2 linked regions of the Homo sapiens genome follow. The main gene of each other region encodes a partner of the protein of the gene in region 2 in a complex. Each region holds a gene or a part of one and is shown on either strand. Other genes may lie near its edges. The genes, in order: POLE2 and POLE4.

Evidence for each region.
Region 1: POLE4 (region 2) and POLE2 share a complex: the UniProt entries of both Homo sapiens proteins name them as parts of the DNA polymerase epsilon complex.

What each region holds. Positions count from the first base shown.
Region 1 is NC_000014.9:49,649,391-49,665,589, reverse strand, and holds part of POLE2 (DNA polymerase epsilon subunit 2), read left to right. Parts: intron 1-426; coding exon 427-483; intron 484-915; coding exon 916-964; intron 965-2,202; coding exon 2,203-2,275; intron 2,276-9,746; coding exon 9,747-9,919; intron 9,920-10,495; coding exon 10,496-10,585; intron 10,586-10,751; coding exon 10,752-10,806; intron 10,807-11,375; coding exon 11,376-11,435; intron 11,436-11,522; coding exon 11,523-11,600; intron 11,601-14,212; coding exon 14,213-14,321; intron 14,322-15,148; coding exon 15,149-15,325; coding exon of another isoform or gene 15,326-15,337; exon of another isoform or gene 15,338-15,443; intron 15,444-16,199. UniProt on the Homo sapiens protein: Accessory component of the DNA polymerase epsilon complex. Participates in DNA repair and in chromosomal DNA replication.
Region 2 is NC_000002.12:74,958,400-74,974,598, forward strand, and holds POLE4 (DNA polymerase epsilon subunit 4), read left to right. Parts: upstream 1-243; 5' UTR 244-280; coding exon 281-493; intron 494-941; coding exon 942-1,026; intron 1,027-1,705; coding exon 1,706-1,747; intron 1,748-11,009; coding exon 11,010-11,023; 3' UTR 11,024-11,729; downstream 11,730-16,199. UniProt on the Homo sapiens protein: Accessory component of the DNA polymerase epsilon complex. Participates in DNA repair and in chromosomal DNA replication.

The sequences.
Region 1 (16,199 bases), on a different chromosome or scaffold from region 2:
TTGTGCAGGAGCCCAGTTTGCATAGCCTGAAATTAGGCCTGTAGTGACCTCTGGATAAACGGAGAGTACTGGGTTTCTGAACAAGCAAGCTGCAGAGTATGTCCTGGTCCCTTGGACATGCTGTTGGCTGTCTTAGAAGGTACCTGGGGAGACCCTCCTTATGGCAGACATCAAATGTCCCTCTTGCCATTTCTTATCTGTAGGAGTCATTCTCCATTGTACCTGTGAGGAGTCAGAATCTCAGTTAAGTGATTAGTCTGGGGTTATCAGACTAGTAAATGGAAGAGCCTGGACTAGAAATAATAGCTGATTTTTAAAATCCACTTTCTCCCTATTGTATTCTGTTGTCAAACTTGTAGTTTAATTTTTTTGTCAACGGTTTTCATTGTTACATAAATGTGGATTTATTTATTTTCATTTTTTTAGGGAAAATTTTTTCTGGAAGATCCTACTGGAACAGTCCAACTAGACCTTAGTAAAGCTATATCCTTCACTTGTCTGTATTTTTTAAAATCTGCATTACGTGAATTGGGGAAATTGATTATATATCCTTCTAAAATTTACCTATTTGGGTTCTCAATGTAACTTCTCTATGTTGCTGGTGTAGGAATGTAGAGATATAATCCTAAACAGGGACAGAACAACTTTAATTTTCTCTTATTTGGAGAATCTAGATGAATCACTGACGAAATTTATATCATGGTAAGAATGATCCACCCTGTCAATATTACCAAGAATTAAACATGAGGACATTTAAAACTAAAATTTTTTAAGCTCTTTCTAAGCTGTGGTCTATTCACAGTTTCAAATGGGAAGTCTTTAAATTTATTATTTAGAAGCCTTGTTGGACTCAAAATGTATGTTGACTTTATTACTGCCTCAAGAATAGAATTATTTTCCTCAACTGTTGTGTACCAGTTCCATAGTGGTTTATACACAGAGGCATGCTTTGTCTTAGCAGAAGGTAAGTCAGTATACTTTGTTACTGTCCTTCTTCTCATTCTCCAGTAAAACTTTCTGCTTTGGGTAAAATATGTTAACATGATATAATTTGGGATACCATTAATTAGAAGAGCATATTTTTGGCAAAATAACTCTTAGACTGTTAATGGGCTAATAGAAATCTTTTTGGGGTGATGAAAATGTTCTGAAATTAGATAGTAGTAATGGCTACACAACTTGTGAATATACTAAAAATCACCGAATTACACACCCTTTTTTTTTTTTTTCTTTTTTTTTTGGAGACAGAGTCTCACTCTGTCACCTAGGCTGGAGTGCAGTGGCGCGATCTCGGCTCACTGCAACCTCCGCCTCCCGGGTTCAAGTGATTCTCATGCCTCAGCCTTCCGAGTAGCTGAGATTATAGGCGCATGCCACCATGCCTAGCTAATTTTTTGTATTTTAGTAGAGACGGGGTTTCACCATGTTGCCCAGGCTGGTTTCAAACTCCTGAGCTCAGGCAGTCCACCCGCCTCGGCCTCCCAAAGTGTTGGGATTACAGGCGTGAGCCACCATGCCCGGCCTGAATTATATACTTTTTTTTTTTTTCTTTTGAGATGGAGTCTCACTCTGTCACCCAGGCTGGAGTGCAATGGCACGATCTCGGCTCACTGCAAGCTCTGCCTCCCGGGTTCACACCATTCTCCTGCCTCAGCCTCCCTAATAGCTGGGACTACAGGCGCCTGCCACTACGCCTGGCTAATTTTTTTTTATTTTTGTATTTTTAGTAGAGACGGGGTTTCACTGTGTTAGCCAGGATGGTCTCGATCTCCTGACCTTGTGATCCGCCCGCCTCAGCCTCCCAAAGTGCTGGGATTACAGGCATGAGCCACTGCACCCGGCCCTGAATTATATATTTTTAAAGGGTGAATTGTATAGTATGTGAACGATACCTCAATAAAGTTGAAAAAAACACTTAATTTTATATAGGGCCATAAAATGAAACATTTCCTAATCTGTATCAACACGTACTGCCAAACTGAAAAGTGAAAAGTTCTGAATCTATTTCTATTTAATGAATTTTATAAGTTGAGACTCTCTGTGGATCTAAAGTTGTTCACTGTGGTTCATTGAGGTTGGCAACCTCTGTAATTAGTTCACAGGGCATGAGACTAGCCTGGCATTATTGCTTTGTTGTAACATAATTTTGTCCTTTCAAACATAGAGGATTAGACAAATGAAAGTGACGTTACTTTTTTTCAGGTTGGTTTGAAGATCAAGTGTTTCATGTCAATGCCTTTGGATTTCCACCCACTGAGCCCTCTAGTACTACTAGGTATTAAAATGTTTGGTTTATACTCTATGGGAATTTGGTAATACTGGCAGGAGTGAATGTAAGATAGTACGTCATATCTCAGTTACTAAAAGGTGTCAGGCTTTGTGTCAAAATGGAAAAAGCAATGGAAAATGAGAATTAGAAGACTGGGTTTTGTATGTAATGTGAAAACTAGCAGATTGGCCAACAATTAGTTGCAATACCGTCTTTGTACTTCGGCTTTAACTGGGAAAGATTTCCAGTCTGTTTTATCTCTGGGGTTGATGAGAAGTTGAAGTGAGATAAGACAACTAGGATAACACTTAGAAGAATATAATTCCATGTTAATATAAAATTCTCATTTTTATATTCCAATGAATGAAAGTTATGTGAGGTAGCTTATAGCTCCTTAATATAAGTGAAAGCATCATAATATTAGAGCTATTCCAAAATGGCCTTCTCTTAGAGGAGCTGAGCTCCCTGTCACTTGAATTATTTGGGCAGAACCTGAATGATAGTATAAAAATTGTACTTGGTGTCCCATGGGTTGAAAGTAGTTTATAGACCTTTCTTTTCTTCTCCCCACTTTGAGGTGTTTAAAAACATTTCGAGTTAGTTTCCAGTGTATAAAAACTAGAAGATTTCTCATAAAGGCCTAGGTTTCAGAGTTCTCTTAACAGGAGGATCTGGCAATACAGAGCCTGAATTCTCACACAGCAAAAACTAAACTGCAGTGGTTGCCCACTTTGGGCAGGGCATGTATGTGTGCCCTAGTTAGTGTCAGTGGACTGCTGCTTTGCTATTTAGTGTTATCTTCCTGGAGCCTGTAAGCATTTGAGTTTGCCACCTCTGGGGGAATTAAAGTAGTTGCCTTCTAACCATGAGATTCTGTATAATGGTGATGATTTCAAAAGGAAGCATAAAGATTAAGATTTTAGTTTTACCAGGAGGCAGAGGTTGCAGTGAGCCGAGATCGCACCACTGTACTCCAGCCTGGCAACAGAGCGAGACTCCGTCTCAACAACAACAACAAGGATTTTAGTTTTAGTATGCCTGTATAAATTCAAGGTGCAAAGGCAACATTTCCTGGCTGGGAGTTTACTGGCAGGGCGGCCTGTGCAGAGCATCTACTCTTGCTGTTGAAGTAACTGAGGGAAAGGTGCTGATCTTGCTAAGGAGAACACAAGCCCTAATCAAGCCAAGCTCACCTCTATTTGAGTGCTTTTGGTGCAGTTTGTGGCTTTTTTCCAATATGGTAAGTTTCCTTTGGAATATATTTAGAGCAAAATTGCCATTGTCATGGTATTTTTGTTTTGTACAAGCTTCAAAATTACTACTTTGGAATGAGAGGTATAGTTGAGTTGGCTGGCTGTGAGTTTACCATTTGTTTCTCTTTAGCCAAGAGATCATTATTATAATGTTTCAAATAATTTTCCACTTAAATTATACCATTTTCTCTAAATCCAACTGCTTAGTATATGCTTAGTAAACCAAAGGATTGGTATGAGGTGTAATAAAGTACATTAAAATAAAATGATCATTTTATTCTTGTTAGGATTATAAATTTTCTCTAAAATGCCTTCAAAATATAAAATTCAGGGGGCTAAATCTGGTGGTAGTCAATCAATTCAACAACTAATATTTTAGTGAGTATGTTTTATGTGTAAAATACTGTTTTACAAATAAGTGCAAATAGGTCTACAGCATGGTCCTATCCTAAAGAGATTTACACTGACTCAATACCCTCCCTACCATTGTGTAGTTAATGCAAATAATTTTTTTTTAAACGGAAGATGTGAGTAAGGCTTTTCTGAAGTTTAATTTCTCAATATTTAGCTTAATAGGTGTTTCTGTGATGCTCTGATTTATGTTTGGGTATATGCTTAACTGAAATCATCATACAATTATGTCTACTTACTGCATTCCTCTAGCAACTATAAAATTATTACTGTACCTTTGAAAATGCCAGTTGGTCCACTTGGTGGGAACAATAACAATATCAGTTACCATATCTAAGGGCTCACACCGTACTAAGCACTGTGCCCTGTGGGCTTTCTGTACATTATCACTTGTATTCCTTCTAGTAACCCTGTGCAGTAGATATCAGTTTAGTTTTTTTTTGCATTTGAAGAGTTAGGTTAAGAAGTGTCGATTTGGGAGGCTGAGGTGGGTGGATCGCTTGAGCTTTGGAGTTCAGAACTAGCCTGGGCAACATGGTGAAACCCTGTCTCTATTAAAAATACAAAAATTAGCCAGGTGTGGTGGCATGCGGTTGTAGTCCCAGCTACTTGGGTGAGAGAATCGCTTGAACTTTGGAGGCGGAGGTTGCAGTGAGCTGAGATCCTGCCACTGCACTCCACCCTGGGTGACACACTGAGACTTTGTCCCCCTACCCCCCAAAAAAGAAGGGTTGGGTAATTTGTCCATGGTCACAAACTTTTTTTAAGACGGAGTTTTGCTCTTGTTGCCCAGGCTGGAGTGCAATGGCACCATCTTGGCTCACCACAACCTCTACTTCCCGGTTTCAAGTGATTCTCCTGCCTTAGCCTCCCAAGTAGCTGGGATTACAGGCATGTGCCACCACACTCAGCTAATTTTGTATTTTTAGTAGAGACAGGGTTTCGCTATGTTGGTCAGGCTGGTCTTGAACTCCCGACCTCAGGTGATCCACTGGCCTCGGCCTCCCAGAGGGAGGCTGGGATTATAGGTGTGAGCCACTGTGCCTGGCCCAAACTTTTTATTGTTAGAGATGTGCTTTGATCCCAAGGTTTCCGACTCAAGCCAGTATGCTGCATTGGAAAAGTAGTTGAGTCTTTAAAAAAAGAAAAGTTTTTTCTTATTAATAATGTAGTTCATGATTGCAAAAAAAAAAATTAGAAAATATATGAAGGCACACAAAAGGAAAGGAAAATCACCTGTAATTTTACTAAACAGAAAAAAACTGTTAACATTACTTTATATATGTATATACAGTTGTGTATTGCATAACAACGGGGATACATCCTGAGAAATGTGTTGTTAGGTGATTATGTCACTGTGCAAACATCACAGTGTACTTATACAAACCTAGATGATATAGCCCACTGTACACCAAGGCTGTATGGTACAGCCTGTTGCTTCTGTGCTACAAACCTGTGTGACACGTTGCTGTATTGAATACTATAGGCAACTGTAACACAATGATAAGTATTTGTCTCTCTAGATACAGAAAAGATAAAGTAAAAATATGGTATAAAATATAAAATTGGTACACCTGTATGGAACACTTATCATGAATGGAACTTGCAGGGCTGGAAGTTGCTCTGAGTGAGTCAGTGAGTGAGTAGTGAGTGAATTTGAAGGCCTAGGACATTACTGTACACTACTGTAGGCTATTAACACTGTATACTTAGGCTACACTAAATTTGTTTAAAAAGAGTTTTCTTTCTTCAGTAAGAAATTAACCTAGCCTGGGCACAGTGGCTCACACCTATAATCAATCCTAGCACTTTGGGAGGCTGAAGGGAGTGTTGCTTAAGGCCAGGAGTTTGAGACCAGTCTAGACAACATAACAAAACCTCATCTCTACCAACAACAACAACAACAAAATTAGCTGGGTGTGGCAGTGTGTACCTGTAGTCCTAGCTACTTGGCAAGCTGAAGTGGCAGCATTGCTTGAGCCCAGGAGTTAAAGGCTGCTGTGAATTATCATTGTGCCACTATACTTCAGCCAGAGTGACAAAGGAAGACCCTGTCTTGAAATAAAAATTTTTTAATAAAATTAATTAACTTTAGTTACTATAACATTCTTTATAACCTTTAAAAAATTTTAAATTTTTGACTCTTTTTGTAATAAACAGCTTAAAACACAAACACATTCTACAGCTGCACAAAAATTGTTTCTTTGTATCCTGATTTTGTGAGCTTTTTTCTTTTATTGATTAATTGATTTACTGATACAACTGTACTCTCTTCTTCAGGCTGGAATGCAGTGATATGATTATAGCTCACTGCAACCTCAAATTCCTGGACATAAGTGTTCCTCCTGCCTCAGCTTCCCAAGTAGCTAAGACTGCTAATTAAAAAAAAAAAATTGTGTAGGGATTGGTGGGGGTCTTCACTATGTTGCTCAGGCTGGTCTCGAACTCCTGGCCTCAAGCAATCCTCCCACCTCAGCCTCCCAAAGTACTGTGATTACAGGCATGAGCCACTGTGCCCAGCCACTTTTTTCCATCTTTATATTTTCTAAAAATCTTTTTTGTTAAAAACTAAAACAAGTGTATTAACCTAGGCCTATACACAGAATCATCAGTATCACTGTTTTTCATCTCCACATCTTGTCCACTGGAAAGTCTTCAGGGGCAATAATTCATGGAGCTGCCATCTGTAGTAACAATGCGTTCTTCTTGAAGGACCTCCTGAAGGACCTGCCTGAGGCTGTTTTACAGTTAAAAAAAAAAGTAGAAGGACTACACTCTAAAATAATGATTAAAAGTACAGTAAATACATAAACTAGTAACATAGTCATTTATTATTGTTATCAAGTGTTACATATTGTACATTATTATATGTGCTGTACTTTCCTACAACTGGCAGCTCAGTAGGTTGTATACACCAGTGTCTCTACAGACACAGTAATGTGTGGCACTAGGACATTGTGACAGCTAAGATGTCAGTAGGCAATAAGAGCTTTTCAGTTCCATTATCATTCTGTGAAACCACTCATATATGCAGTCCGTCATTGCCAAAACGTTTTTATGCCGTGCATGACAGTCCATATGTAGTAGATCCTCATTAATTTACAGATTTGTGCTAAAATGTTTTTGTACCTCCTAAAGTCAATACTAAAGGTGCTTTAGTGGTCATTTATGCTTAGCAGAACAGCAAAAAATTTTGAGTCACCTGGCATGCATGTTCCCAGCTGAAGTCGAACAGGCCATACTGCCTTCTTGTTTCAGCCTCATTAAGAGATGACCAGAGGGGCCGGGCGCGGTGGCTCAGGCCTGTAATCCCAGTACTTTGGGAAGCCTAGGCGGGCGGATCACGAGGTCAGGAGATCGAGACCATCCTGGCTAACACGATGAAACCCTGTCTTTACTAAAACTACAAAAAATTAGCCGGGCGTGGTGGCAGGTGCCTGTAGTCCCAGCTACTTGGGAGGCTGGGGCAGGAGAATGGCATGAACCCGGGAGGCAGAGCTTGCAGTGAGCCGAGATCATGCCATTGCACTCCAGCCTGGGGGACAGAGCGAGACTCTGTCTCAAAAGAAAAAAAAAAAAAGATGACCAGAGGACAGAGACTGCAGGGAGCAGTACAGGGTAGTGCAAGAAGCTCTGGCCCTGGGGCCAGTTTTGTGTGGGGAGGGGGCATTTGAATCTCACCTCTGGCACCTGTTTTTGGAGCAACCTCAGATAAGTCACTTAACATTTCTGAACCAACTTTTCTCATTTGTAAAAATAGAATCTACCAGGATAAATTGGTTTTAGGACTTAAGACTATAATCAATCCATGTATATATAAGTACAAATTTTCCCAAGGAGCAATGGTTCAGTGTTTGCCAATTCATTGTTTGTGGAGATTTTATAGAACATAATATCACTAATAACAAGAATCAACTGGCTGGGCGTGGTGGCTCATGCCTGTAATCCCAGCACTTCGGAAGGGCGAGGAGGGTGAATCATTTGAGGTCAGGAGTTCAAGACCAGCCTAGCCAACATGGTGAAACCCCATCTCTACTAAAAATACAAAATTGGCTGGATGCGGTGGCATGTGCCTGTAATCCCAGCTACTCAGGAGGCTGAGGCAGGAGAATTGCTTGAACCCGGGAGATGAAGGTTGCAGTGAGCTGAGATCGCACCGCTGCAGCACTGCACTCCAGCCTGGGAGACAGCATGAGACTCCGTCAAAAAAAAGAAAAAAAAAAAAAAGGAATCAACTATAACAAGATATGTATGTGTATATCTGGAGAGTTTCTTTTTATGCATGAATGCACAGGTCTATATCTATTCCCTTTTTTTGGCATTATAAATGGATACATACTGTACCTTGCTTTGTAACCTGTGTTTTTCATCTAATAATATGCTATCAACATTTTCTATTACTGTGAAATATTGTTTTATAGCATGATTCGTGACATTCAGGAAATATGTTTTGAGCACATACTGTATTGCCACTAGGTGGGGAGACAGACATGAAACAATCGCCCAATTACAATTGGCTGACTACAATTTTTTTTTTTTTTTTTGAGGCAAAATCTTGCTTTGTTGCCCAAGCTGGAGTGCAGTGGCATGATCTCGGCTTACTACAACCTCCATCTCCTAGGTTCAAGCGATTCTCCTGCCTCAGCCTCCCGAGTAGCTGGAATTATAGGTGCCTGCTGCCATGCCCGGCTAATTTTCACATTTTTAATAGAGATGGGGTGGATTTCACCATGTTGGTCAGGCTGGTTTTGAACTCCTGACCTCAAGCAATCCCCCCACCTCGGCCTCCCAAAGTGCTGGGATTATAGGTGTGAGCCACCCTGGCCTGATTACAAATTTGATAAGATCTGCAAAGGAGAAGTACAGGTTCCTATGAGAGTGTATAATGGGAAAATCTAACCTCTTTTGGGATCCTCAGAGGAGGCCTATGGGGTATTTGCATTTAAGCTGGGAACTGCAGGATGTCAGTGTAGAGTGGGCAAGAGTGGTGGAGGCTGGGAGTGTGTAGATTACCCACTTTCCTACTGACCCTTGCTTGGTGAGCATTGAATAAAACCAAGCTTTGAAGGAACCGTTGAATAATTTTTTCACAGTTCTTGGATATAGGCTAGTCTTTGTATATATCTTTAATTCCTTAGGATTAGCCATTCCAGAAGTAGAATTACTTGGGCAGATGGTTAGCACATATTTTGAGGTTTCTATGAGATATTGTTCAAATGGTGTACTCATTTCTTCTACTTTCAGTGACATAGGAAATTATTATTTTAATGTTTGCTTTAGTCAGTTTTTTTTTTTTTTTTTTGAGACAAGAGTCTCACTGTCGCCCAGGTTGGAGTGCAGTGGCGCAATCTCGGCTCACTGCAGGCTCCGCCCCCCGGGGTTCACGCCATTCTCCTGTCTCATCCTCCAGAGTAGCTGGGACTACAGGCGCCCGCCACGTCGCCCGGCTAATTTTTTGTATTGTTAGTAGAGATGGGGTTTCACTGTGTTAGCCAGGATGGTCTCGATCTCCTGACCTCGTGATCCGCCCGCCTCGGCCTCCCAAAGTACTGGGATTACAGGCGTGAGCCACCGTGCCCGGCCGTTTAGTCAGTTTTAAGACACAGATATAGCCTATTATTTTATTTACTGCTTCCATATTGCTTATCTTGTTTTAGAATATTTAGATAACCTTTGTACTTTTAAAGTGTTACAAAGAGTACCTTTTTACACTGGAAAATAACTTCATTAGATACAAAGAAGCTAAATGTATACAACTATTAGAAAAATATCTCTAGTGGTATATAGAAGATAATTATGTTATAATTATCTAGGGCATACTATGGAAATATTAATTTTTTTGGAGGTCCTTCTAATACATCTGTGAAGACTTCTGCAAAACTAAAACAGCTAGAAGAGGAGAATAAAGATGCTATGTTTGTGTTTTTATCTGATGTTTGGTTGGACCAGGTGGAAGTATTGGAAAAACTTCGCATAATGTTTGCTGGTAGGTCTTATTTTTTTTCTTCTTTCTTGAACTCTTTTAAGGGTTCATGTTTTAAAACTTTTTGAGTATTCTATTTATCTTTTTGAGTATTCTATTTAAAAAAAAACAGAGTTAGCAATGAGATAATTTAAATTAGATTTCATTTTAAAGACTTAAATTTTTACATTAAGAAAAAAACCTGTGTGTGTGTGTGTGTGTGTGTGTGTGTGTGTTTATAGTCATGATAAGTAAGAATTAGTCCTGAAGTTCAAGACCAGCTGGACAACATAGTGAGACCCCATCTCTAAACAAAAACAAAAACAAACTGGGTTTAAGTGCAAGCCTATTACCCTGGGCAGGTTACTTAACCTAAGTCTCAGATTTTATGGATGTTCTGAGGAGTAATTAAGCCAATGCAGGCCTGGCCTATAGTAAGTGCTCAATGAATGGCTACTGTTATTAGTATTATTTTAATAAGTTATTAAAATGTTATTTTAATTAAAATAAATTTTTATTATTAGAAAGTCATGGTTAAAGGGTTTTTAACTTGATTTGTAGACTAGAAAAGTATTGTTCATTTACTCTTTTATTGTTTAGGTTATTCACCAGCACCTCCAACCTGCTTTATTCTGTGTGGTAATTTTTCATCTGCACCATATGGAAAAAATCAAGTTCAAGCTTTGAAAGGTATTAACGATCTATTTAATAAGAAGTGTTTCTATAGTCATATAAACTAAAGTAATAAGAAATTATCCATAATATTTTAATTAAGAATATACAGGATTGTATCTAATCAAATATAATTTTATGGCATTATATGCAAATTTAATTCAATACCTTTTTAAAATTTTAGATTCCCTAAAAACTTTGGCAGATATAATATGTGAATACCCAGATATTCACCAAAGGTAATGATCTCTAGCACTATATATTTTTTCACCGTTTTACTTAAAAAAAAAACAAAAAATGAATTTTGTTATATCAGCAATTATTACAAAACTAAGGAAGAAAGATAAAGTTGAGAAAATTAAAAGAACTAAGAGATAAAGTTATCCTCACATTGTACTAGAGGTTTATAATGAAAAGTATTGAAAGGGATAGAGGTAATTTCAGCCATACTTGGAATTTCTTCGTGGCATTACTCTTAAGAGTCTAGAGCTTCACTCTCCGATATGATAGTCACTGGCCACATGTCTCTTTAAATCTAAGTTTAATTAAATTTAAATATAAAATTCAGTCCATCAGCTATGCTAGCCACAATTCAAGTGTTCAATTGGGCAGTGCAGATATAGAACTTTTCTATCATGACATTACTAGACAGTGTTGGTCTGGAGACTTAATAGTTCATTTATTATAATGCATGAAATTTAAATGTTTTTTAATTTTAAAGAGAAAACAAAGGGAATAACTTGCTTTTAAGCTATTGGATAGTGTTACAATAATATTTTTAAATGAATTGTGTTGAATTTTGCTACAGTAGTCGTTTTGTGTTTGTACCTGGTCCAGAGGATCCTGGATTTGGTTCCATCTTACCAAGGTAAGTTTTGTTCAGATTTTTGCAACAGTGTAGAAAATTTTGTAAAACTTAAAAAGATAAACTATATCACATAAATTGTTTTTATAGGCCACCACTTGCTGAAAGCATCACTAATGAATTCAGACAAAGGGTACCATTTTCAGTTTTTACTACTAATCCTTGCAGGTAAGAATTAGTATTTTGTGTTATACATTTTTCCTTTCATTTAAAAATTAGCCAGGTGTGGTGGCTCATGTCTGTAATCTCAGCACTTTGGGAGGCCGAGGCAGGCAGGTTGCTTGGAGTTCCGAGACCAGCTTTGGCAACACAGTGAAACCCATCTCTACAAAAAGTACAAAAATTAGCTGGGCTTGGTGGCACGCGCCTGTGGTTCTATGAAGAGGCTGAGATGGGAGGATCACTTGAGCCTGGTAGGTGGAGAGGTTGCTGTGAGCTGAGAATGCACTACTGCATTCCAGCCTGCAGCCTGGGCGACAGAGCAAGACCCTGTCTCAAAAAAACAAAAAACAAAAAAACAAAAAAAACAAAAAACAAAAAAACTAACTTGATTCCTAAAATGTGTCTCTGAATTTCGACTGTTATGGAATAAATATAAGAAGAAAATTTATTTTTGTTTTAGGTTTCTCAAAACTTTGAAAATAGTTTAACTATATTTAAATAATTTATTGGTAGTCAATTCAGACTCTTGAATAATGGATAGCAGTTTAAAAATAGATATTATTACTACATATCCTTTAAGAAAGGTTACAAAGGAAGAATACAAAGATTACTTATTTACTGTTCGTATTGCTCATTGTAATCATAAGTTCTTCCTGTGGGAATACCATCAGAGGCAGCCTTGGTTCGCCTCTTTTCTGCCTACATTCACTCCTTTGCTGGCCTTCTCCAGTGTCCTCTGGCTTTAAGTATCATCTGTGTATTGACACCTTCCACATTTATATTTCCACTTCAACCTACCTTCCAAACTCCAGACTCAGGTATCCAGTTGCCTACTTATCACCATCCCAACCTAAGTGAACTCCTGATCTTCCTCCCCACGAGTGTCCCTAACCTCTTCTGTAGACTTCTCCATGTTAGTTCATGACACCTTCATGGTCTGAACAATGATTATTCCAGTTGTTCAGGCCAAACACTTTGGGGTTTCTCTCACATGTTTTTTCAGGAAGTCCCATTAACTTCAAATTATATCCAGAATCTGCTCTCTCTCTATACCTCTACCTCCACAACCCTCTACCACAGTGGTCCCCAACCTTTTTGGCACCAGGGACTGATCTTATGGGAGACAGACGCCAGGGGGGGTGGGGGTGATTTTGGGATGATTCAAGCGTATTACACTTATTGTGCACTTTATTTCTATTATTATTACATTATAATATATAATAAAACAATTATACAACTTACCATAATATAGAATCAGTAGGAGCCCTAAGCTTGTTTTCCTGAAACCAGACGGTCCCATCTGGGGATGATGGGAGACAGTGACAGATCATCAGACATTAGATTCTTATAACGAGTGTGCAGCCTAGATCACTCACGTGTACAGTTCACAACAGGATTCGTGCTCCTGTGAGAATCTAATGCCCCTGCTGATCTGACAGGAGGCAGAGGTCAGGATGTAATACAACCGATGGGGAGTGGCTGTAAATACAGATGAAGCTTTGCTTGCTTGCAGCCTGCTGCTCACCTCCTGCTGTGTGGTCCAGTTCCTAACAGACCATGGACTGGTACCAGTCCATGGCCTGGAGGTTGAGGAGCCCTGCTCTGCCATCTTCTCGGCCTGGATTATTACAATAGCCTCCTAATTGGTCTCCAGCTTTTACTCCTTCCCCTCCGTATTCTATTCTTTTTTTTTTTTTTTTTTTTTTTTTTTTTTTTTTTTTTTTTTTTTTTTGAGACGGAGTCTCGCTCTGTTGCCCAGGCTGGAGTGCAGTGGCGCGATCTCGGCTCACTGCAAGCTCCGCCTCCCGGGTTCATGCCATTCTCCTCTCCGTATTCTATTCTTAACGCAGTGTGAAAGTGATCCTGTAAAGCATAAGGCATATCCCATCCACCTTCCCGATCCTGGAAAAAGGGACCCTCATTGGAAAAAGGGACCCCTCGTGATTTAGTGACAGCCGTATCCTTGCAGTGGTAATCAAGGCCCTGTGTTATCTGGCTCCGTTACCTCTCTGATTTCCTCTCCTCCCCATTTACTCCAGCCACACTAGCCTCCCTTCTGTTCCTCAAGGATGCCAGGCGAGCTCCAGTCTGAGGGCCTGGGCTCCATCTGTTCCCTTTGCCTGCAGTGCGCTTCCTCTGGGTATCTGCTTGACTAAGTCCCTCTTCCGCTTCAAGCCTGTGCTCAAGTCACACTAAATTATGAGCCCGGCCTGTTCTGATCATCCTATTAATATGCCCGCCTTCTAGGCTCTCTCTTACCACATATGCTGTCCCTCTTAGCCTGTCTTTTTCTTTTTCTCTTATGCTTAATTATCTTAAAACATACTATATGATTATGTTCGCTTTTTATTTTCTCAGCCCCACCCCCTACTAGAATGTAAACTGTATGAGGGCTGGGATCTTTTGGTTCTGTTCGCTAATCCCTAGAATGGGGTAGGCATATATTAAGAGCTCAATACATAGCTGTTAAATGAATAGATGAATAGACAGACTCTGGTTGAAGTTTTGTGTGGTGAACAGTGAATGTGGGAATGGGGTTGTATTGTAAGAGATTTTACCTTTAAAATTAATATCATTTTTTTCTGAGAAGTCAAATTCAACTACTGTTTTCATTTCAGAATTCAGTACTGTACACAGGAAATTACTGTCTTCCGTGAAGACTTAGTAAATAAAATGTGCAGAAACTGCGTCCGTTTTCCTAGCAGCAATTTGGCTATTCCTAATCACGTAAGTGAAACAACTTTTTTATTAAACTGCCTTACATGTTGCATTATATAAAATTTTATTAAGCCACTTAATAATTTGTCCTTGGGTTAGGACATTTATTTATGGTTCAAAATAGTTTGAACGTACTTTTGTCAGTAAGTTAATTTTTGTTAGTGAAGTCAGTGTTTCTCAGCTTTCTACCTAAGTGTATGTCCTTTAGAGGACAGAGAAAAGCTGAGAATAAGCATGAAATTTCTTTCAAGCTTCGTGTTTTGCCTTTTAAACTCTTAAATTATACTTGAAAATATATGTATATTTGTTTTAATAAACTGTTCTTATTTATCCCATTGGTTACATATTTTATATAGTATGTCCATATCACAAGAATGTGCAGTATTTATCTTGTAGCTTCGAGGTTCCCTGACAATAGTTGTCAATCACAGGTTACATACACCCCCATTTGAGAAGTACGGAAATAGATGTTACAGAGCATTTTTATTATTCATTTTATAATATTTAAAGTTTATGGACCAGGTGCAGTGGCTTATGCCTGTAATCCCAGCACTTTGGGTGGCTTGCTTGAGGCCAGGAGTTTGAGACCAGCCTGGGCAGCATAATGATGTATATGTTATTAAATGAAAACTCATAGATTTTTTTTCCTAAAATACAGAATAGTTTATTTCACTTTTAAATTAGTGTCTCCCAAAGCTCTGTGAGTCAAAGCTTTCCTAGTTTCTCAAATTTTCTGGTTCCTTTTGGTAATTAATATTTAATTTGAAATTATTTGTTTAGCTATTTTCACTTTTGCAAATGAACTGAAGTTTGCTTTGTTTTGTGCTCTTTTGTAGTTTGTAAAGACTATCTTATCCCAAGGACATCTGACTCCCCTACCTCTTTATGTCTGCCCAGTGTATTGGGCATATGACTATGCTTTGAGAGTGTATCCTGTGCCCGATCTACTTGTCATTGCAGACAAATATGATCCTTTCACTACGACAAATACCGAATGCCTCTGCATAAACCCTGTAAGAATGTAGTTAATCTTATATAGTCATTATTTATCAAGATTAGAGTGCATTTTTTAATTTAAAAATATATATTTAATAAGATTATTGTCGAAGTAAAAATATGCTATTAGTGAAACACTGAATTAAGTTTCTATACACAGAAAGTTGGTATACACAGAAAGTTCTTAAACTTTCAGTATAGTGACTATAAAGTAACATGACTTAAAAAACAAAAAAACAAGCATACCCACAAGCATACCAAAACATAAATCCAAAAGAGTAATTTTCTCCTCTTCAGAACTTATCTTGGGATTCCTTTCTGGGAATTGCTTCAGAGCCTGCATATTGGTGGTACTTGTCCTTTGAGAATGATTTTGATTTTTGGAAATTGCACAGGTCCCAAAAATCTAAGCCTGATTAATATAGAAACCTCATTGGTACATATTTTATTACTTAATTTTATGTAGAACCTTGAAATTGCTTCAGAATCTTGAGGTTGCTTCAGAATTTCTGCAGAAATATAATTGACTTTTAGGCCAGGTATGGTGGCTCACACCTGTAATCCCAGCACTTTGGGAGGCCGAGGTGGGTGGATCACGAGGTCAGGAGTTCAAGACCAGCCTGACCAACATGGTGAAACCCCGTCTCTACTAAAAATTACAATAATTAGCTGGGCGTGGTGGTGCGCGCCTGTAATCCCACCTACTTGGGAGGCTGAGGCAGGAGAATTGCTTGAACCAGGGAGGCAGAGGTTGCAGTGAGCGGAGATCACGCCATTGCACTCCAGCCTGGGCGACAGAGCGAGACTCCATCTCAAAAAAAAAGAAAAGAAATATAGGCCGGGTGTGGTGGCTCACGCCTGTAATCCCAGCACTTTGGGAGGCCAAGGCGG
Region 2 (16,199 bases):
AGGCACAGGCACCAATGGGAGGTGCCTGGGCTCCACAGGCCCGTCGGGGCCAGAGGGTCGCCGGTAGCGTCAACCAAGTGCACGACAGCCCACGGGTGGCTAGGCGCGTGGGAAGAGCCGGAGCCCGACCCCCGCCCACCCGGTTTCCTGGCAGCGCACTGCCGCGTAGGGGCGGAGCCGCGCGCCTACACAGGGTGTGGCCTCCAGCCCGCGCGGGAAAGGGCCTGCGCCGCATGCGCGCGCACAGTCGGCGGCCGCGCGCAGCACGCTCAAGGCCGGGATGGCGGCGGCGGCGGCGGCAGGAAGCGGGACGCCCCGAGAGGAGGAGGGACCTGCTGGGGAGGCAGCGGCCTCGCAGCCCCAGGCCCCAACGAGTGTGCCTGGGGCTCGTCTCTCGAGGTTGCCTCTGGCGCGAGTGAAGGCCTTGGTGAAGGCAGATCCCGACGTGACGCTAGCGGGACAGGAAGCCATCTTCATTCTGGCACGAGCCGCGGTGCGCCTGCAGCGCGAGGGCATGCGGGAGTGGGGGAGGTGGAGTGTGGGGCGGGGCCTCGGGGCCTCCCGCGGGCGGGGCTTAGGGCGGCGTGGCCCGGGTTTTGAGATGTGGGCGTGGACCCGGAAGGCGGAGGAAAGGGGCCGGGGACCTGTGCGAGTTTTGTTAACACTCCTCCCTCTTGTTGAGGACCTGGATAGTGAGTGACTTTAATTTGTATCTCCAGGGCCTCGTACAGAACTTGTAGGAGTCTTTAGTGAATGAGGGAGAATACTGGGAAGAGGGTAGCGGAATGGATCTTCATGAAGTCCAGGACAATCTTAGCTTCCAGAACATTTTCTTGCCCCGAGCCTTTCTTCTCCCTTTCTGCCCCCACCCACAAACCGGAGCCCTCACCTCCTCAGTGTGTTAGAACCCATTACTAAAACTTTGCTTTTTTACTTCACAGGAACTGTTTGTGGAGACCATTGCAAAAGATGCCTACTGTTGCGCTCAGCAGGGAAAAAGGAAAACCCTTCAGAGGAGAGACTTGGGTAGAGTGGCACTGCAGTGTCTGGGGACAGACAAGGGAGGGCTGGGCTGGTTTCCCCTTGTGCAGGTTGAGAAGACGTCACTCTGATCTGAGAGGTGCCACAGCGTCTCTCCCCAGGATGGTTTCTGTTGGCCACAGTGCCAGGAAGCCCTACCTGTAGAGGCTGTCTGCTTGGGGTGGCGGGGCAGTGTGTGAAGGTGTCTGGGGTTGCCGTAGCGGACTGGATCCCTTCATACCTTCTGCCAAATTGCACCAGAAAAAGATATTTCTTTTTCACCTAGCAACTGGGGATTTGATTTCTGACTCTTGTCTGGCTGGGAACCCTCACCTGGGTAAGATTTCGTATACCGTATTCTCATGCGCCCTGCGTCTATTGCCACGTTCTTCTCTGACAACTTTAAGAGCAAAGCGAATAAATAATTTAGGGGTAATTTAGGAGGCCCCCAACCCCCGCGTTGAATGGTATTTGCCTATGCTTTTCTTAACTCTTCTAGGGAGACAGCTAATATATATAAGAGTTGCTGGTAGAGTAGATATGGATCTCAAGGCAGCAAGGGACGCATCTTATAAATGCCCTCATTTGCCCAAAGCCTCATGCCCTTCACTGCAGATTGTGCTGTTTTCTGACTGAGGTCAGCATGGCTGAAGTTAGTCAGGTGTCTCTTTTCCTTGTGTTTCAGATAATGCAATAGAAGCTGTGGATGAATTTGCTTTTCTGGAAGGTGAGTTCCCTCTCAGTGGGCAATCATTTCCGCCTGTCTTTTGCATGTTGATGTGAAATTCAAAATCTCATAAAACGGATGCCTGCTTCTTGTTTGTGTAGGGATAATTCTCCGCACTTGCTATTAGGATAGAAAAAAGTAACTTGCTAAACCTAGTGAGGTTCAGTTTTCTCCCTTGGGGAATTAAAATTTCTACCTGAAAATTGCTAACCATAAAGAAATAGGAGGGAATATAAAGATCCCAGTGGAGTTAGATGAATTCGAAAGTTCGATTCCTACTTTGATCGCCATCCCTAAATGTCAGGCTTGCCCCCCCTCATCATGTTACAGATCAGAAACAATTGTTAACATTTAAAGGGTCACCGCTTGTTCTTTTTTCTTCAACAATCTGTGTGAAGTGATTATTTTGCTGCAATAAGACTTGTACTTGTCTGTATTTTTAGGAGTCATGGATTAACTTGTGTACTAACTAAATTTTGTCATTAAAAAAGAAAATATTTGAAATACCTAATTTTAGCTACCTAGCCTCAGAGCGATTTCTGCTACTTAATTCTTCAGTCTGATCAGCTTACTCTTCACTACACGTATGTAGTCATGTGCTGCGTAATAACTTTTTGGTCAGCCATGGACTGCTCACATGAGGGTGGTCCCATCAGATTATAATGGAGCTGAAAAATTCCTTTTGCCCAGTGAGGTAGTGGTCATAACATCCTAATGAAATACATTACCTTTTCTATGTTTAGATTTGTTTAAATACACTTATCCTCATGTTACAGTTGCCTACAGTATTCAGTACAGTAACATGCTGTTCAGGTTTGTAACCTGACAACAATAGGTATACCCTGTAGACTAAGTGTGTAGTAGGCTATACCATCTAGCTTTGTGTAAGTACCCTCTATGGTGTTCACACAGTGGTGAAATCGCCTGAAGATGTGATGCATTTCTCAGGATGTATCCTTGTTGTTGAGCGACACATGTATTTTGATTGAATAGCTTAGCAAAAGCCATGTATCCTTATTCTCCCAGGGTGTTCTCATTACCTCCTTCAAGCCTTATTACCTTTAGAAATATCTTGATTTATTCCACTCTTTTTTACTCCTTTGTTCTGCATCTCCCTGTCAACCTAGGCCCCTGGTCCTTTTGATAGATATTTTTTAAATGTCTTATTAGATAGATAGACTACCATGGCCAACTCTATGTCTAGACTATTGAGCATTCTTTTAATTTGCAGATTTTTCTTCAGCCTCTCTTTCCACCTACTCATTTTTCTTAAAATTAACTTTTGTTAGTCCTACCTAAGGCAGGCACTCCTTGTGACAGACTTTCTGTAAGTTCTGCAGTCAAAAATGTTTGGAGCCTACTTTACCTCTTCATTTTTAATTACCAGCTTTTCAAAGACATGAGTGATATGATCAGATTTGTATTTTAAGTGCACAACATTGCTGCCCTGGGGAAAATAAACTGGAGGGTACTAGGAATAGAAGTGGGGTGGTCTTATGTAGTTTTCCACTCTAGCCTCTATCACAGCATAGTGCTTAGCTTGGATTTTTAATAAATGGCCATTTATTGAATGATTGGTGTGTTTATTTTCATCCTCTGCCTTCATCCTCATTTATCTCTGTAATTGAATCCCTTTGCTCTGTCCTACATTGGTAGATCTGAATGTTAGCCATCATAGCCCCTGTGGATTCAGTCTGCATTATATTATTTTTTACTGGGTAAAATAAATGTTCTTATGTCCTTAGGTGTGTATGGTCTAAGTAAATACATTTTTTTCGTTTTTATAATACATATCCATACTTGAAAATCAAATCGTTACCTAATGGCTTATAATGAAGTACAGCTGCCGTCCACCCACTGTTTTGTTTGTGTTTTGAGCTTTTCTGGTGGTTACGTTTATTTCTAACTAATATGCTTACCCATTGGTTTGTCAGCTGTAGACGGTATGTATTGACTTCCTGCTGTGATAAATGAAGATTTGGCTAACCTGTAGAACCCCATAAATCCCCTGCTGTCTTTCTGATTTTTGGTAGTTGTATCACTAGTTTTAGTTTCTTTACCTTTACAGTTTATATAACATACTAGGATGTCTTTGGTTGTTGTGTCCAATTTTTAATGTATTCCTTGACTCCCCAGTTTGTAAAGTATGACTATTAGTGCATGTATCCCTTTTCCCTTTCTAGTTCACATCTAGCTATCAATTTGTGTTATCTAGTAATTTGACATTGTCAAAGCTAATAACATTTGTATCTTATCACAATTAAATCTTCCATGCTTTATCTCTGGTTGATTGTAGAAGTTGAAAACTAGGACTGTAAACAGTCTTTCTCTACCTTCTCTCTGTCCCTTAATTCCTCATTCAGGTCCCCTCCCTGCAAACAACTGTTACTAGTTTTCTTCTGTAATCTGGATATTTTATGCAAATATGTTTGTATGTGTATATGTATATTCTTTTTCTAAGTCATATGAAATACAACGTATGTAAAGTGTGTGCTGTAAATGTAAAGTCAATAAATGATAAAATGAACACTCTCGTAACCACCATCTTGGCCAAGAGATAGGGTATTGTCAGCCCCCAGAGTCCCACGTATATTCATTCTTCATCATACCTATTCTCATCCCCTTTCCCGACATTACTGTTTCCTAACTTTTTTGGTAATTACTTCCTTTTCTTTATAGCTTACTATATAAGCATGCATCCCTGAACACTAAGGTTTAGTTTTGTTTTGTTGAACTCTCTGCAAATGGAACCAAACCGTATGCATTCGTTGGCCAACATCTGTCACACAACTGTTTTAAGTTAACACATTTATGAGATTCATCTGTGTGATTGCACATAACTCATTTGTTCGTGTTCCTTGCTATATGACAGTACCACAATTGAACTATTTTAATGTTGATATTTGGGAAACCTTATTTCTCCTATTATAAACAATTTGCTGTGAACAATCTTGTACATATTTCTCTAGGGTGGATGTATATGTGTGTATAAAATATATAATACTGCTGGGACCTAGGCTATATAGAGTATTCGTATCTCCATCTTTGGCAGGTACTGCTGAACTTCCTGTATTCCAATTCACGTTCCTACCAGCAGTGCATGATAATTCCCATTGCTTCTCATTCTTACCCACACTTGGTATTACCAGAGTTTTTTATTTTTGACAAGCTGTTATTGAATGTAAGTGATAGTTGCATGTGGTGTTAATTCGTATTGCCCTGATTGTGGGTGACATTGGGCGTCTTTTCATATACATGCCCATTTTTTTTTGAGGGGTGTCTTCTATTTTTCTGTTAGCTATTTTTGTCCTTTTTCTTATTGACTTATAAAAATGCTTGCTGTATTTTATTTCATTTTTATTTATTTATTTTTTTGACGTGGAGTCTTGCTTTGTCATCCAGGCTGGAATGCAGTGGCATGATCTCTGCTCAATGCAGCCCCCCCTCCCACGTTCAAGAGATTCTCACGTAACTGGGACTACAGGCGTGTACCACCACGCCTGGCTAATTTTGGCATTTTTTTGGTAGAGATGGGGTTTCACTGTGTTGGCCAGGCTGGTCTCGAACTCCTGACCTCAAGTGATCTGCCTGCCTCCGCCTTCCAAGGTGCTGGGATTACAGGTGTGAGCCACTGCGCCCAGCCGTGCTTGTTATATTTTAGATATGAATCTTTTTTAGTATATGAGACGTATCTTTTCCTGCCTTTTCACTCCTTAAAAGGTTGTCTTTTGATACGCATTAAAATATAAAGGTAATCAAATGTATCAATTTTTTTCCTTATAACTAATGCTATTTGTGTTCATTTTAGAAAATATTCCCTACTGTATTGTCATGAAGACATTCTGTATATGCTAAAATCTTTATAGTTTTGTCTTTCATAACAGTGGAGTTGAATTTTTGTGTATTGGGTTGGGGGTCCAGTCTCATTTGTGTCTTCATATTTAGATATCCGCTTGTCCATATCGTCATCTCACTGCTTTGCAGTGCTACCTTTCTTATCAATCAAGGCTGTTTCTGGCCTTTCTGTTCTCTTCCATTGATCTATTTGTATCTCTTTTCCATTGATGGGTATTCTCACATCAGTACTATACTGTCTCAGTTATGGTAGCTTTATCTGAGAGAGCAGATCTTCCCACCTTGTTTTTTTCTAAGTATCTTTGCTATTTTTGAATCTTTGCATTTTCATGTACATTTTAGAATCTGTCAAATTCCACAAAAAGAGATATTAATTGGGATTGTATTGAATTTATAAATTACTGTGGGGAAGAAACGATATCTTTACAATAGTGAACCTTTCATTTTATAAATATGGTCTACTTTAACATTTATTAATATTTAGTTTTTAATAAATTATTTTACCTGAAGAAATCTTGATGTATTTTGTTAAATGTTGTTCTGTAAGTACTTAATATTTTTGATGATATTGTTAATGGTATCTTTCTAAAGAAAATTTTATTTTCTAAATATTGCTGTTTTTAGAAATATAATTGATTTTATGTTAATTTTGCAACTAGCATCTTTCTTAGCTGTTATTCTTAGTTTTTTTACTTAAAAATTTTGTTTTGATGTAGTTCTTAATAATTTGAATGACATATCTGTTGATTTTTGAATTTCTTTAATTACATAGTAGTATATCATCTGCCAATAATAATAATTTTGTGAAGTTCTTTCCAATCCTTATCTTTATATATTTTTTTCTTGCCCTACTGAACTGGCTAGAATCTCTAGTACAGTGTTGCATGGAAGTGGTAAGAGCAGGCATTTTTGACTTCCAAGGGAAAGCTTTCAGTATTTACCTAGTAATTATGCTTACTGTAGATTTTATGTAGATTTTTTAACAGATTATGAATGTTGCATCCCTGTTTATAAAAGAGATTAGTCTTTTTTTTTCATACTGTGTGTGAGCTTCATACAATTCATTGGCAATTATACACTTTTTATCTATTTTTTTTTTTTTTTTGGTGGGGGATGGAGTCTCACTCTGTTGCCCAGGGTGGAGTACAGTGGTACGATCTCAGCTCATTGCAACCTCTGCCTCCTGGGTTCAAGTGATTCTCCTGCCTCAGCCTCTCGAGTAGCTGGGATTACAGGCTCGCACCACCACACCCCAATAATTTTTGTATTTTAGTAGAGATGGGGTTTTGCCATGTTGGTCAGGCTGGTCTTGAACTCCTGACCTCAGGTGTTCAAGGTCCACCCGCCTCAGCCTCCCAAAGTGTTGGGATTACAGGCGTGAGCCACCGCGCCTGGCCCACTTTTTATCTTATCTATTCTCTGGAAAACTTATTGAAAGATTGGAATTATTTTGTTTTTGAATATTTGATGGAATTCAGTGATGCTGTTAGAGGGGTTGCAATGCCAAATTTGGTTATTGTATAATTTAGATTTTCTGTGTTCTTACTGAATTTCTTCTGTCTGCTTATTTTACCTGTTTCAAAGAGTTATGTGTTAAAACTCTACTGCTATGATTATGGACTATTTCTACTTATATTTCTGGGTCTATTCTTTCATTATATATTATGAAACCATGTGATTAGATATATACAAATTTAATGTTGTTATATATTGTTGGTGATTGAGCCTTTTATATTTGTAAATTGGCTATTGTTATTTCTAACTGCTTTGAGCCCTAAAGTCTATTTTGTTTAATATTATTAAAGCTTATCAGCTTTCTTTAGTTAGTATTTATTTGCACGGTACGGATTTTTGTAAATCTTTTAATTTTTATCTTTCCATATATTTGTGAACAGAATTTAACTGGATTATTTTCCTAAATTCAGACAGTCTGTGTCTATAACTGGAGCACGTCATTTATTTATGTTTAATGTAATTGGTCATATCTATGAGTTTGAATTCTATTGTCTTATTTTGTCCTGCTTTTTATTTGCTTGTTTTATGTTTTGTTTTTTTTTTCTCTCAATTTTTGGCCTTCTTTTGGATTATTATTTGATTTTTTTCCCTCTATCAGCTTGGAAGTTATATGCTCTATTTCTATTCTTTTAGTGATTATCAGTTACTATGTAAGTCCTTAATTTATCAAAGCCTATTTAGTACCTTTCCCCTCATTCTCAACAAATTGAGATCTCAGGATCCATTAACTCAATTTTCAAATTCCTCGTCTCCTAATTTATGTGCTGTTATTGTCATGTATTTTTGTTTTGTCTTTGTCAATCTACATAAGGCATTTTTATTCCTGAATTATGCAGTCAATGATATATGGATTTAGTCACATACTACCTTTGCTTTTCTTTCCTTTCTGGATTATTATTATTTTTGAGACAGTTTCATTTCGTCACCCAGGCTGGAGTGCAGTGGTGCGATCTCAGCTCACTGCAACCTCTGCCTCCTGGGTTCAAGTGATTCTCATGTCTCAGCCTCCCAAGTAGCTGGAATTACAGGCATGCACCACCAAGCCTGGCTAGTTTTTTTTGTATTTTTAGTAGAGATGGGGTTTCACCATGTTGACCAGGCTAGTCTCAAACTCCTGACCTCAAGTCATCTGCCTGCCTTGGCCTCCCAAGTGCTGGGATTACAGGCGTGAGCTGCTGTGCTTGGCCTCCTTTCTGTATTTCCGATCCTCCATTTGTGATCATTTTCTTCTTCCTGAAATAAATCATTTAGAACTTCATTTAGTATGGTCTGGTAACTGACTCTCTCATTTTTTTCTTATGAAAATGCCTTGAATTTCATTGTTGGAGGATAATTTGTTGAATATAAATTCTAGGTGGAAAATTATTTTCTTTTAGCACATTGAAGCTATCATTTTACTGCTTTTTTTTTTGGCTTCTATGTTTTCTATAGAGAAATTACCTGTTTGTAATTCTTTTGAAGCTAGTTTATCCTTTTTGTTTTTTGTCTGCTTTTAAGATTTTCACTTTGATTTTCTGTGGTTTCACTCTGATGTACAGAGGTGTGGATTTCTTTTTATGTAGTTTGTTTGAGCTTCTTGAATCTATAGATTAATGTCTTTCATCTGTCCTGGAAAATTCTCAGCGAGTGTCTCTTCAGCTATTGGCTCTGCCTTGTTCTTTCCTGTGTCTCTCTCTGGGATTCCCATTAAATATATGTAAAAACTCAATCATAATTTTGCCTCTCTAGTATGCATTCTGTGTAATTTTTTCTGATCTTCCAGTTTATTCTCTCCATTTGTCTCATTTCCTTTAAACTATTTTTTTTGTTTTTTTTTTTTAGTTTCAGTTTTTGTATTTTTCAGTACTGTGAGTTCTGTTTGGTTCCTTTCCAAATCTGTTGTCTTTTTTTTTAGCTTAATAAAGTATCAAGCAATTTTTGTGAGTACTTTTTGTTGTTCTTATTTTCTGCAGGTATTTTGAAGTTTGTCTTTTAGTTCTGTAAACATAGTAAACACAGTTGTTTTATAGTGAATGTTCCATCCAATATATGACCTAATATTCAAAGCCTTTTGAGTTTTTTGTTTGCTAGTCTGTGCCGAATCTAACATCCATAGTCTCTTGAGACTGTCTTTTTGTCTGTTGTTTCTTTTGGTACTGTCACATGGCCTTTTATCCCCCTATATGCCTATCTTTGGATAATGGTTATTTTCTTTAAAAAGTATTTGTTAGATAAGTTGAGGCCATATGGTGATACTTTCTCCAAAGAAAATTTCCATTTGCTCCTGAAGCCACCTACAGCCATTATCAGTGCAGGACTTCTGAATCCAGATCTAAGACTTGAAGGTTTCTGGACTATCATACTGATATGAACTCAGGCTGCAGGCCTGTGAAGGGGCACTGATTAAATTCCAGTTCGTCCTTACTCTGAGGGGGCAGCCTTTTGGGCTCTAGCTTAAGAAAGATGGGTGTCAGACTTCCTTACTTGGGTAGACTCAGGGATTTGACTCTTGGTTCCTTCAGCCTACACAAATAACCGCCCAGTTTCTCAGCTTTTTCAGATTGGCAGATGTCATGAGAGCAGAAGTAACATTAGAGGCTGGGTTTGTTTTGTGTTCTTACTGTCTCTAGATTTCACATTTGCTTTTTCTTGATGTCTCTTCAATTCCTGAAGATTTCCTTTTCTTATATATTTTATTTAGCTTTCTCAGTTGATCTCAACAGGAACTTGCCATTATGAAAAGCACCTCTATTTTTTTTTAAATTAGAAGTGTTTTTGCTTTATTTTTCTTATGTTTTTATTTTCCCTATATTATCTAGGTCATTAAAAAAAGTTTTGGTATCCTTTCAACTGTGTAGCTTTCTTCAGATACCTGGTGATTTTCATTCTATTTAAGAATAAGGGAATAAGGCTGTTTGGTAACTGTGTGTGTGTGTATGGGATGAGGGGGTGGTTGTTGCCTGGCAGCTTTGCTTTAGGGTGAACAGGGGTGGGACCAGATGTTGTCCTGGGTGACCCCGAGGGTATGAATGCAGAATGCTTTGCTGTGGGAAGCTGGCAGTTTTAGAGGCTGTTCTAGTTTTCTCCATATAGTTCATTTGGTTCTTTAGAAGAGAGCCCTGTGATCTTTGTTTTTTTTTTTTTTCCAAGTTAGGTTTAAATGCCTGTCTTCTGGTTGTCCTGCCTGTGGGGAGGGTTGTGGGGAGATAGGGGCAACTGTTTGTCATACAGACCCTCTGGTCATTAACCCATTTTCATCTCACATCACCATTCCTGGTGACTTGAGCCTGGAGCTTCCTCATGGTTCTTTTAGGCATATGGGCCTCCTTTTCTGCTGCAGCCCCCTCTGTTCATTCTAGGCTCCTTTTTCCTCTGCTCTATTTATAAGCATACTTTGATCAGGTTTCTGTTACTCAGTTTTTTGTTGAAATCCATTAACTGCCAGTGGGCCCCTATTTGTTGTAGATTTATACTTTTTAAACTTTTTTACCTTTTGAATGGAATCTTGGATGGGAGGGCATACGTACTTGTGGGCCCAGTCCCCCATCTGGAACTGAAACTTTCTAAAAAGATTATAAACTCTTTAATTAGAGAGTTTACCTCATTTATTTTATATTCTTTTCTTATATGGTCTTCATCAATGTTCATTAACTAACACAACGACTTCTTAGCCCTTTTCCCACTTCTAATTCTAGCTCTTCCGACTAGTATGCTTAATTCCTAACTGCCCACCATCTGTAATGACATGTTTTCCCTGGGGATATTTTGGATGGATCATCCTCAAAATTAGTATTTTGGTCTTAGAGAACTGCTGCCAATACCGGAGCCTCTTCTGCATTAAGTTTGCCCAGCTTGTTACACTAATCCAGCTTCTGAGGTCCCCTGATATACTCATTGCTCTTTGTATGTTTAGGTACTTTAGATTGATTGCCGAGCGGGGCAGTTTTGTGAGCCTTCATCTGAAGCCTTCAGTTCACCCCTCTGCACAGGCCTCAGCTTTGAAGAACGGAGTCTTTGCACTTACACACACTCTTCCTGTTCTGCCTTCACCTATGCCGGGATAAGCAGAGATCTCATCAATTAGCTCTTCTCTGCAAGGTCTTCCACTATTTCTGTCTGTCTTCCATATCAAGCCTGGATGCAGCTGCTGCTGCTTAGAGCAGAGATGAAGAAAGTGTTCTGCATAAGTGGCTTCCTGAATGATGAGGACCAGAATAAAGGTTTTTGATCAACCTCAGTCCAGTGTGTTTTATAATCTCGCCTTTGTTCCTACCCTGTGACTGGAGAGTCACCATACCTGGTCACAGACCTTCCTGATCTTCCCTGCCAGCCATTCTAACATACAGTCCTTTCATTAATTTTGTTCTTTTATTTTTCCAGCACATCACCAGAAAGTGGTTCCAGAATTTATGGAACACCACTTGCCCTCAGGAGTTCAAATAAATATGGTCCTAGATTGAAAGCCAGTTAAATTTTTTTTAAGTTTTATTTATTGACATATCCACATACTCTATATTTCACCAATTTAAAGTGTACAATTCAGTGGTATTTAGTATATTCACAAATATGTACACCAGTCATCACAGTCGATTTTAGAACATTTTATTTATTTATTTATTATTATTATACTTTAAGTTTTAGGGTACATGTGCACAATGTGCAGGTTAGTTACATATGTATACATGTGCCATGCTGGTGCGCTGCACCCACTAACTCGTCATCTAGCATTAGGTATATCTCCCAGTGCTGTCCCTCCCCCCTCCCCCCACCCGACAACAGTCCCCAGAGTGTGATGTTCCCCTTCCTGTGTCCATGTGTTGTCATTGTTCAGTTCCCACCTATGAGTGAGAATATGTGGTGTTTGGTTTTTTGTTCTTGCGATAGTTTACTGAGAATGATGATTTCCAATTTCATCCATGTCCCTACAAAGGACATGAACTCATCATTTTTTATGGCTGCATAGTATTCCATGGTGCATATGTGCCACATTTTCTTAATCCAGTCTATCGTTGTTGGACATTTGGGTTGGTTCCAAGTCTTTGCTATTGTGAATAATGCCGCAATAAACATACGTGTGCATGTGTCTTTATAGCAGCATGATTTATAGTCCTTTGGGTATATGCGCAGTAATGGGATGGCTGGGTCAAATGGTATTTCCAGTTCTAGATCCCTGAGGAATCGCCACACTGACTTCCACAATGGTTGAACTAGTTTACAGTCCCACCAACAGTGTAAAAGTGTTCCTATTTCTCCACATCCTCTCCAGCACCTGTTGTTTCCTGACTTTTGAATGATTGCCATTCTAACTGGTGTGAAATGGTATCTCATTGTGGTTTTGATTTGCATTTCTCTGATGGCCAGTGATGGTGAGCATTTTTTCATGTGTTTTTTGGCTGCATAAATGTCTTCTTTTGAGAAGTGTCTGTTCATGTCCTTCGCCCACTTTTTGATGGGGTTGTTTGTTTTTTTCTTGTAAATTTGTTTGAGTTCATTGTAGATTCTGGATATTAGCCCTTTGTCAGATGAGTAGGTTGCAAAAATTTTCTCCCATTTTGTAGGTTGCCTGTTCACTCTGATGGTACTTTCTTTTGCTGTGCAGAACTCTTTAGTTTAATTAGATCCTATTTGTCAATTTTGGCTTTTGTTGCCATTGCTTTTGGTGTTTTAGACATGAAGTCCTTGCCCATGCAGAATGGTAATGCCTAGGTTTTCTTCTAGGGTTTTTGTGGTTTTAGGTCTAATGTTTAAGTCTTTAATCCATCTTGAATTGATTTTTGTATAAGGTGTAAGGAAGGGATCCAGTTTCAGCTTTCTACATATGGCTAGCCAGTTTTCCCAGCACCATTTATTAAATAGGGAATCCTTTCCCCATTGCTTGTTTTTCTCAGGTTTGTCAAAGATCAGATAGTTGTAGATATGCGGCGTTATTTCTGAGGGCTCTGTTCTGTTCCATTGATCTATATCTCTGTTTTGGTACCAGTACCATGCTGTTTTGGTTACTGTAGCCTTATAGTATAGTTTGAAGTCAGGTAGCGTGATGCCTCCAGCTTTGTTCTTTTGGCTTAGGATTGACTTGGCGATGCGGGCTCTTTTTTGGTTCCATATGAACTTTAAAGTAGTTTTTTCCAATTCTGTAAAGAAAGTCATTGGTAGCTTGATGGGGATGGCATTGAATCTGTAAATTACCTTGGGCGGTATGGCCATTTTCACAATACTGATTCTTCCTACCCATGAGCATGGAATGTTCTTCCATTTGTTTGTATCCTCTTTTATTTCCTTGACCAGTGGTTTGTAGTTCTCCTTGAAGAGGTCTTTCACATCCCTTGTAAGTTGGATTCTTAGGTATTTTATTCTCTTTGAAGCAATTGTGAATGGGAGTTCACTCATGATTTGGCTCTCTGTTTGTCTGTTGTTGGTGTATAAGAATGCTTGTGATTTTTGTACATTGATTTTGTATCCTGAGACTTTGCTGAAGTTGCTTATCAGCTTAAGGAGATTTTGGGCTGAGACAATGGGGTTTTCTAGATATACAATCATGTCATCTGCAAACAGGGACAATTTGACTTCCTCTTTTCCTAGCTGAATACCCTTTATTTCCTTCTCCTGCCTCATTGCCCTGGCCAGAACTTCCAACACTATGTTGAATAGGAGTGGTGAGAGAGGGCATCCCTGTCTTGTGCCAGTTTTCAAAGGGAATGCTTCCAGTTTTTGCCCATTCAGTATGCTATTGGCTGTGGGTTTGTCATAGATAGCTCTTATGATTTTGAGATACGTCCCATCAATACCTAATTTATTGAGAGTTTTTAGCATGAAGGGTTGTTGAATTTTGTCAAAGGCCTTTTCTGCATCTATTGAGATAATCATGTGGTTTTTGTCTTTGGTTCTGGTTATATGCTGGATTACATTTATTGATTTGCGTATATTGAACCAGCCTTGCATCCCAGGGATGAAGCCCACTTGATCATGGTGGATAAGCTTTTTGATGTGCTGCTGGATTCGGTTTGCCAGTATTTTATTGAGGATTTTTGCATCAATGTTCATCAGGGATATTGGTCTAAAATTCTCTTTTTTGGTTGTGTCTCTGCCTGGCTTTGGTATCAGGATGATGCTGGCCTCATCAAGTGAGTTAGGGAGGATTCCCTCTTTTTCTATTGATTGGAATAGTTTCAGAAGGAATGGTACCAGTTCCTCCTTGTACCTCTGGTTGAATTCAGCTGTGAATCCATCTGGTCCTGGACTCTTTTTGGTTGGTAAGCTATTGATTATTGCCACAATTTCAGCTCCTGTTATTGGTCTATTCAGAGATTCAACTTCTTCCTGGTTTAGTCTTGGGAGAGTGTATGTGTTGAGGAATTTATCCATTTCTTCTAGATCTTCTAGTTTATTTGCGTAGAGGTGTTTGTAGTATTCTCTGATGGTAGTTTGTATTTCTGTGGGATCGGTGGTGATATCCCCTTTATCATTTTTTATTGCGTCTATTTGATTCTTCTCTCTCTTTTTCTTTATTAGTCTTGCTAGCGGTCTATCAATTTTGTTGATCCTTTCAAAAAACCAGCTCCTGGATTCGTTAATTTTTTGAAGGGTTTTTTGTGTCTCTATTTCCTTCAGTTCTGCTCTGATCTTAGTTATTTCTTGCCTTCTGCTAGCTTTTGAATGTGTTTGCTCTTGCTTTTCTAGTTCTTTTAATTGTGATGTTAGGGTGTCAGTTTTGGATCTTTCCTGCTTTCTCTTGTGGGCATTTAGTGCTATAAATTTCCCTCTACACACTGCTTTGAATATGTCCCAGAGATTCTGGTATGTTGTGTCTTTGTTCTCGTTGGTTTCAAAGAACATCTTTATTTCTGCCTTCATTTCGTTATGTACCCAGTAGTCATTCAGGAGCAGGTTGTTCAGTTTCCATGTAGTTGAGCGGTTTTGAGTGAGATTCTTAATCCTGAGTTCTCGTTTCATTGCACTGTGATCTGAGAGATAGTTTGTTATAATTTCTGTTCTTTTACATTTGCTGAGGAGAGCTTTACTTCCAAGTATGTGGTCAATTTTGGAATAGGTGTGGTGTGGTGCTGAAAAAAATGTATATTCTGTTGATTTGGGGTGGAGGGTTCTGTAGATGTCTATTAGGTCTGCTTGGTGCAGAGCTGAGATCAATTCCTGGGTATCCTTGTTGACTTTCTGTCTCGTTGATCTGTCTAATGTTGACCATTTTCATATGAATGGAATCATGTAACAATGTGGTCTATTGTGTCTGGGTTTTTTCACTTTGATAATGTTTTTAAGGATTATCCATGCTATATAGCATCTACTAGTACCTCATTTTAAAAAATTGTGGTAAATTGTACATAAAGTAAAATTTACTTTTATAACAATTCTTAAGCATATAGTGGCATTAAGTACATTCACATTGTTGTGCAACTAACCCCATCATCTATCTCCAGAACTTTAAAAATCTTCCCAAGCTGAAACTTCATACTCATTAAATAATCATTCCTCATTCCCTACATCCTGCAGTCCCTGGCTAAATTTTGGTTTGGAGGAAAGGTGTGGGTGACATAACAGGAAGGAGGCAGAGTACCTAGAAAGTAGCAGTTAAGGAAAGCAGCAGGAAGCCTTGGACAGTGGTTCTCAAGTATTACTGGGTCATGGACCATTTTTAAAATAGTCCATGGGATTTGCTCCCTGGAATGATGCACAGATGTTCAGTACTGTCACATTTAAAAAATAAGCTTTATTTTGGAGTAATACTAGATTTGCAGAAGAGTTGCAAAGGTAGTAGAGAGAAGTCTTATATGCCCCTTACCTAGTTTCCCCATTGTTAACGACATTACCAAGTACATTTGTCACAACTGAGAAACTGACATTTATAGGTTACTGTTAACTACAGTCTATTTGGATTTCATCATTTTCTTCATTAATACTCCTTTTCTATTCCCAGATCCATGTTACTATATCACATTTACTTGTCATGTTGTCCCAGTCTTCACTGGTCTATGGCAGTTTCTTAGTCTTTCCTCATTTTTCATGACCTTGACAGCCTGAGTAGTGCTGGCTGGGTATTCTGTAGGATCTCCCTAACTGGGGATTGTCTTGTTTTTCTTGTAATTAGTTC